Regions from separate parts of the Homo sapiens genome. Here regions 1 and 3 are each linked to region 2. Evidence: fine-mapped expression QTL. Tissue or cell type: whole blood. Region 2 holds a variant in brackets; each other region holds the start of a gene. All regions are shown on one strand. Distances are between the middles of the regions.

The links. PIP is the estimated chance that this variant, and not a neighbour inherited with it, causes the effect.
Region 1: DNM3 starts here. The variant in region 2 is fine-mapped to the expression of DNM3 in whole blood (INTERVAL, PIP 0.99).
Region 3: it holds the start of SUCO, and the variant in region 2 is fine-mapped to the expression of SUCO in whole blood (INTERVAL, PIP above 0.99).

The regions. Positions count from the first base shown.
Region 1 is chr1:171,839,909-171,842,591 of GRCh38, reverse strand. It overlaps DNM3 (dynamin 3), which reads right to left and starts at 1,094. Exons shown (of 21, transcript NM_015569.5): 1 at 775-1,094. The coding sequence starts at 935. RefSeq lists an enhancer at 670-849 and a silencer at 1,050-1,279.
Region 2 is chr1:172,452,728-172,455,410 of GRCh38, reverse strand. The region is part of intron 3 of C1orf105 (chromosome 1 open reading frame 105); the gene reads right to left. Among named protein-coding and RNA genes, the nearest start is that of PIGC, 10 kb to the right of the region's middle. The variant A/T (reference allele first, on the strand shown) is at 1,254.
Region 3 is chr1:172,531,985-172,534,667 of GRCh38, reverse strand. SUCO (SUN domain containing ossification factor) reads right to left here and starts at 1,518. Exons shown (of 24, transcript NM_014283.5): 1 at 1,171-1,518. The coding sequence starts at 1,232. RefSeq lists enhancers at 1,130-1,289, 1,900-2,149, 2,210-2,319 and a silencer at 1,410-1,579.

The sequences.
Region 1 (2,683 bases), 610 kb after region 2:
GAATGACATGGCACCTGGACAACATAAGTCCACGTCCACCCCCTGCCAAGTCTGTGCCTCGGGCTCTCTCACAATTGCCTGAAGCTGTGAATAGGTGCACACGCAAACACACCACCTTTTATTCTTCGACTCTCCGGGAGGAGAATGGTGGGGAAGCGTCTCTGGATAAAGCTTCACCACAACAAACGACGTCTTTCTCCTCGCACCCCGCCTCCCCAGCTAGAGGCAGGCAACAGTAGACAGCTGAGAGGAACGAGAACCCTGGCGAGAAGGAAAGCATCTCCACCTAAGGGAGGGGGCTCGGGGGATAAAGCCCCACAGCCTCACAGGGAGCCTCACGGAGGGCGACAGGAAAAGGAGGGGGGTGTTGAGCTGGGAAAACAGGAGAGGGGCACTGGGAAGCTTTCGGCGCGCTACGCAGGGAGGCTGCCCGGGGCTGGCGCGCACCGAGGGGGTGGGGGTCGAGCCCGGGGCGGACCCCTCCCCCGACTCCCCGACTGGAGGACAGGGAGGAAATGGCTTTGTATCGCACGATGAAAGGCAGGCAGGAGGGCCACCAGGCGGGGGGTGGCAGGGGACGGAGGATGCCCAGAGCTGGAGGACCCCGCCCGCCCCACGGACACCGCCACTCTGCCCCCCATTCCACTCTGCCCCCCATTCCACCGCAGCGCCTGGTCCATCCACCCTCTGGCTCCCGCTGCCCGTCCACGTTCCAACGGCCCGCAGCGGGGTCGCCCCACTGCCGCATCCTTACTCCGCGCCCTGCGCGCTTACCTGCCCACGAAGTTCTCGAGCACCGAGCTCTTGCCGGCGCTCTGGCCGCCCACCACGGCGATCTGCGGCAGCTCCAGCAGGCAGCTCTGTCCCAGCGCCGAAAACGCGTCCTGCAGACGGTTCACCAGCGGGATCAGCTCCTCCATCTCCCGGTTCCCCATCTTGCCCGAGGGGCCGGCGACCAGCTGGTCCCTGCTCGCCTCTACGACCTGACAGGGAGTAGGGGCCGCGCTGCCCTGGCTGCTGCTGCTGCGCCGGGCTCAGCCAGCCAGGTCCTGGCGCAGACGTCGGAGCCCGCCGCCAGCCCGCCGCTTGGCTCTGACAGCTAACGACCCGCAGCGCGCCTGCGCGGGCGGGCAGGGGCGTGGCCTATCTCCGCGACGCCCCGCCCCCGCCCCGCGGCTGCCCCGCCCCGGGCTTCCCATCGGACCACCAGGCCAGGCGCGCACGCACTGCAGCCCAGCTGCGGCCAGATGCCACGGCCTCTGCGTTCTGTGGCCAAGGCTCAGAGGCCAAGTTACAGCGCCGGGTCAGGAAATGGCATGAAATCAGCAGCAGCGGCAGCGTTGTTCTCTTTCAGCGGCTACCAAGCCAAAGCCCAGTGGAAAGCACTATCGCCGCTAACACCACCACACGATCACCAGCAACAGCAGCACCGCCGCCGCCACCACCGGGGCACCGCTGCCAGACTACACTTCCCGAAAGGAAATCTCCTCTGTCACGCCCTTCTCCAGAATCCGCGATGACTCCTCCCAGGGTGGCAGGCCTGTTGGAGTCTAAATTCTTCAATGTGACATCCATCTAAGGCCCTGAGTGGTCTGACCTTACTTAATTCTTCATCTGTAATGACTCGTCCTCCCCAGCCCCGCATAAGCACAGGTAGAGTCTGTAGGGTTTACCGCCCCGATACACCCCTTTAATCACTCTGGCCTGTGAGACTCCTCATGCCATTTGCCCTCCCGGTCTATCTCCTTCTACCGGATCTATCCAGAACCAGGTACCCTGGACGCATTCTGTGAAATTTAGCACATTGAGAAGTGACTGTGTGTGGGGTCCTGTGCCTGATGATCGGGACACAAAGATAAATGGCCATGCTTCTCTTAGCCTCCACAGACGGTTCCTTTTTAGTCTGCTCCTCAAATACTGATGCTTCGCAGGGTTTCATATATGGGCATTTTCTTGTCTAATGTTTGTCCTCTGCCTGAGGACTTTCCCATAGCTTTAACTCTGAATCAAGGCTGGCGACTACAGAAATTTACATTGCTAGACCCTGTCTCTCTTCTGCAACTTAGACTGTACTCCAAGAGGAGCCCAGAATACTACCTGAGTGTCCTACAAGTACTACAGACTCAATTTATTCAAAACTGAAGTCATCTTTTGTAATCTCAGCATTTAATGTACAGTTCCTTCTAACTCTAAAAAGACATATTAAAATGTTCATAATGTCAAAAAACCTGAAAACAACCCAAATGTCTATCAACAGGTGAATGAATAAACAAACGTGGTATATATATATAGTGAAATAATCTCTGCCACAAAAAAGACTTTTGATATAGCAACAATCTCAGATACATTATGTAGAATGAAAAAGGCCAAAGACCATATTGGTTTGATTTCATGTATGTGAAGTTCTACAACCAGCAAAGCTATTCTATGGTAATAGAAATCGGAACTGTGGTTGTCTTTGAGGAGTGGAGATTGACTGTAGGAGGCATGAGGAAACTTTCTGGAGTGATGGAAATGTCCCATGTCTTGACTGGGATGTGGGCATACATTTGTCAAAACTCCTCAAACTAAACTTTTAAGTGATGTGCATTTTACTGTACATTACATCTCAACTTTTTTTTAAAGCAGCAGAAAAAGACAAATAAAACTGAATGCATCTCCACTGAAGTGGATCTCTATTAGA
Region 2 (2,683 bases):
TGATCCGCTTGCTGGCCCATCACTACATGGTGTGCCTTGACCCATTCCTGTTGCCCTGGGAAGTGTGGGGAACAGAAAGAGGAGGAACAGAAAGTGAGGAGTTCCTGAGGTGTGCTCCTAGGATGACCTTTGCCAGATTGTTCTGCAAGTAGCTTCATCCTGTGAGAGACATATGGCACTTAGGTGATGCATCATGGGGGGTTTGAGGGCTAAAAACTGTTAACAAAGTTGGATTCTTTTGAGAAACATTTAAAATACACTTCATTTTTATAGGGCATTCTAAAAAGAATCAACTCAGTATTACAATGTTGTGGGTTGGTATGTCAAAGTATGTGTGTGAATAACTAGATTCATTCATTCAACAGTAAACATCTATTGTGAGGCTACCAAGTAAAGGGTGCTGTGACGGGGGTCATACCGACGAATAAAGCAAAGTTTCTGGAAGGAAGTTTCTAAGGAAGACAAAAGAAGAATACAAATTCATTCATTTACCCATTCATTAGGTACTGGAGACATTTAAATAAATAAGACATAGTTTGTGACCTCAAGCTGCTCACCATCCAGTAGCCTATACATCAAGAAGTATGATGGTGTTGAAGGTGCTACAACAGAAATATATCGAGGCTCCAGTGAAGCTGAAAGGGGTCATTGAGCTTAACTGGGGGTGGGGCAGAGAGGGAAGGGTCTGAGAAGGGTAAAAAAAAACAGGCAATGCTTGGGTAGGTGTTTGTGGAGTGAACAAGGATGGTGAGGGTGTTGCAAGCCCAGGAAACACTATACAACAACCTGGAAGAATAATCTAGCAAATCAGCTTCGGGTAAGTGAATGTAGGTTGGGATGGACAGGTTGTCTGGTGGGAGGTTGAATGGAGTGAGAAGAGAGACTAGAGAGGAAATGTCTGTGGATATTGACTCCTCTGCTTTGGGCTGATTCAACTTTCTACCATGTCTTCCTGATACCCCTGGGGGTGATATCCCCTGAAGCTCCAGCTCCTCCCTCCATCCCTCACATCTTTGAGGTATGAGAGTGAGGTACATTTCTGAAACTGCAATTAAGGTAGGACACACTAGATATCATACAAGAGGCACTAATACCTCTGTGCCTTCAGAAAACAGAGAGACCACTTCTGATTGGAGAAATCAGGAAAGGCTTCCTAGAAGTGGAATTTGTACTCAGTCTGAAGGGATGAGGAAGACCTGGACAAGGGGAGGCAGATATGGAAGAATTCTTGGGCAGGTTTGTTTTTAGTAGAG[A/T]TATAAGTTCTTCACTGAAATTATTTCCTTCACCTTTTTCCAGACTTCTGGTTTCTGCTAAGACTACTATTAGACCCTATAGGAAGTGGAATCTCAGAGCTCATTGCAAATCAAGCAACAGATATTATTTGCAAGATCCCCAAAGTGCATTGCAAGATCTTGCTAGGTTAATGACAACTGTAAATGTGAGTACAGAGTCCCATAACATAATGACTGTCATCTCTTAGAATCTGAGGGATGAAATGCTTATATATTGTCCCACCTGGCCTTGATAGCTACTCATTTAAGACATAGTGTAGGTGTTACATCCTCAGAAAACCTTTCTCCTGGGCTGCTACCATTTCTCACCCTCCTAACCTCAGTTGGGTGCCTGCCTCTTTGATTGCATCATAAACTTGGTCTAGCTTTCTTTGTATTTGCACTATTCTTGATTTTAAATGTGTTTATTTCCTCCACCGGGCTGAGAGTTATTATATTTAAGAGCAAGAATCATGTTTTACACATCTTTGTATTCCTAGAACCTATGATAGAACCTGGCACACAGCAAGTATTCAACAAACATTGGGCAAATGAATGAGTCATTGTAAGCAATTTAAATTATGAGGTCTAAATATAGACACAATCAACCTAAATATATAAAACGAAAAATACATATATAAATGAAGATCACTATTGTAACACGGTCTTCAGGGAAACGTTACAGAACATTAGTGTTGTAGTACAACAAATTCATTCTATGTAATGCACTGGGGAAGAACACTGGCTAGACGCCCAAAAAGCTCTGTTCCAGTCCTGGCTCACAAACAACTTGGGTGACTTTTGTCAATCATATAAACTCTCCAAGTCTCCCTTCCCCTACCGATAATGGTCTTTGTGTTCAAAAAGACAGAGGCGGATGCTCTAATCCTGTCCCTTTACACTTTACATTTAAAGGTAAAAAGCAATCTTTGATCTGTGCTGTACTCTACCTCAGACTTGCTATCAGCTGAAGCCTGGCCTCCAAGAAGAGCTGCTCCATTTCTATCTGGAGAAGGGATGAGGGCATTGAAGAGTCGTGGAAGGCAGCTGTGACAGGCTACTTTAAAGGCGACGCAAACATTTGAGACGCCATGTCCTGCAGGCCTCATTTCCTCCATTCTGTCTTGCTTTCTTTCCCAGCCCTGAAACCCAGGTCTTTGGTCTTTTTCTTCTGTTGCATTCCCTTCTCACTCGGTTTCCTTACGACCAGCTCAGCAGCAATAACAGGAATGGAGAGGGAATTGTCCACATTCACAGTACAATGCTCTGGTTTTATCAGGTCTAGAGCCAGAGGCACTGGAATGTTAATGGGGCCCTCATTTCCCAAGCAGCTGTCCTCTGGATAGCAGATGGCAGTTGTGACAGGAGAGTGACAGCAACCTATGTGTAGCCTGGCCAAGGTATGATGCAGA
Region 3 (2,683 bases), 79 kb before region 2:
TTAAAAACAGGAGACGGGTATTAAAAGGATTCAGAATGAAAGGTAATAAGTCAATTGTTTTTGTTCTCAAAAACTTCTATCATTCTTCCAATAAAAATCCCTCAGCCAGGCGAGTGTTTTCTCTTCCCCTTGTTTATGTATTATTTTATGTGAGCAACAACTCTACAATTTCAGTGCTTCTGGAATCCATAAGGCATCCATAAAAATGAAAATAGTGTTGGTGCTTTGCAGAAATAAGCAAAACAGGAAACTTAATTTCTATTTTAATATAACAAACAGCAAATCGCCTAGACTGAAGAAGCATCTTTTCAGTCATCAATTGTCACACATCTTTGAAGAAATTCCCTGGGAGGAAAGAATGGCTTTTCCAAGTACGGTGACAGCAGTCCCTCGACTTACAAGCTTTCTCTGCTCCTCAAAAAACTCCAGAAGTGCCTGGGATTAACAGAAACTCCGTAAAACTTAAGGAGTGCTTTAGGGACAAAGCACTCTTCCCGCCTTGAAAATACAGCATTTACCTTCCCGTCACTAAGGGGCATTACCAAAAACTACTACACACACTACATCTAAGACACCCTCTCCACCAAACCAATTGAAAAAGTGCTTCATAACACACATACACACACGCCCCCCAAGTTTCCAAAAACAGCGGCCCGAGTGTACTTGGGATCAAACGCTGTGCGAGAAATGTCCAGGAGAACTACTGCTTATACATTACTCTTACCTTCATGACCACTCACGTTTTAAAATCGCACGTCCGGAACGCATCACATCCGACGTGCTTTATCCCCTTACCACACTAAGAACGCAAAGACTGGCGGCAAATCGGAGCAACTTACTTACCATCAATCTGAACACCCACCCCAAACCCTGCACCGTCTCCAAGGGGTAGAGGAACTGAGTACAAAGGCACTTGGTGGTTCCCTCTACCTTGGCACCTCTCTCTCTCCCACTGAGTCTCTGTAAATTCCAAAATACACCATGAAAATCTCCGCACAGAGCACTACCAGACCAGTCAGATGGAGAGTCGAGAAGTAATCGGTTTGTCCCTTCCACGGGGGCCTTGGAAACCCGGACCCTAAAAGCCAAAATGACCAGGGGGTGTGACCTGGGCTGCTCCCTCCCATTTACTCCCCTCACGGGAACTCCCTTGTCGTCGCGGCTACTCACCAGACCAGAGAGCACAGAAAGAGGCAGGAGACCAGGGCCAAGGCCCGCCGGTGCTTCTTCATCTTCTCCTCCTTCTTCCCCCTGCCAGAAGGCGGCACATCCTCCCGGCAGCCGCCACTGCCGAGGCCAAGATGGAGGAGCCGGAGCAGGAGCGCGAGAATGTGACCGATAGTCCTAAGGGCTATGGCGCTGGCTGAGCGGCTCCTCAGTGGCTCGCGTCCTGGCAGCCCTCTCTGAGGGCCCCACAGAGGCGCGGACAGGGGCGCTTCACAGGACTCCGGGGACCGCCGCCGCTGCAGCCACCGGCTCGTCCACGCCCGCCTCCTGCAGCCGCCACTGCCGCCCCATATCCTCCCCGCCCGCCGGGGGCCTTGCTCCGTGAGGCCAGCGACCAACGGCCGCCGCGTACTCGCCTCTCAACAGCCAATCGCCGGCGGGGCCGCGACACCTCACACACCGCTGAGCTGGAAAGGGACGCGTCACCCAAGTCCCGCGGCGCCCGCACCCCCACCAGCCTCTGCGCAGGCCACGCCCCCTTCGACGTCGCAGGCGGAGAAGCCGGAGGCAGGAGACCACAAAGCGCAGGAGCAGATGCTCTCGCCGCTCCGCCCGCCCCAGGTCCCGCCCACTTGCTGGCTTGCGTTCAGAAAGCCGGGAGGAGCCCAGTGATCCTCAGCATTTCCCCTTACAGTGGACCGCCCTTCGTCCCTCGCGCGCTGAGTCCGCGCAAGGGCCTTTGGGAGTTGTAGTTTGCCTTCCAGAATTCGTTTTTCTCTTTCCCAGTCCCTCCTAGAATCCATGGTTTTGTTAGAGAAGTCTATAGTTTCGCTGCTCACCACGAGACTGATCAGCTTTGGAACTGTTGCACTGTTTTCCTCTTTTGAGCACAGTTCGTGGAATGGCCTAGAATGACGTGTGTGTTGTGAGGGAAGCTGCACCAAGCCCTTTCCCTGTGGCAATGGACTGCCCCATTGAGCTAGATGTTGATTGGTAGATAGAAAGGGGCGTGCCAAGAATCCTCTCATCTGATTGGTTGCAGCGGAAAACCTTTCGCTTTTTCTTCTCTTCAGCAAGAATTTCGCCGCTTGCCGGGTTCCTCACTTTAAGTGTGCTTCGTTGCTTTTCGTTCTGTTGGTTTCGAACTTTGGGTTCTCTGCGATGGAGTCGGAAGGGAGGAGTTGTCCCCATTAGAGGAGCACCCACAGACGCTCCAAGTCCTGGGGTTCACCTAAAGTGGGGAAGGCAGTCGCTTACACTCACCTAAGAAGAGCAAAAAGTGACCACTTCTCAATACTAAGTAACGGGGCAGCATGCCCATTCCAAGTGTTTACGCCGCTGAGGGGACGGAGGCTGCAATGGTCTGTGCCTTGGAACATGGCATAATGTTTAGTGTGAAAAATGTTTAAAGGACGGGTTACTTATTGTTCATGTGGCCGTAGGGAAAAAACCCTCAGTAAAATGCCCACCTAACGCCTAATTTTGAGCCGCGGAATTTCCTTATGAACCTTCTAAG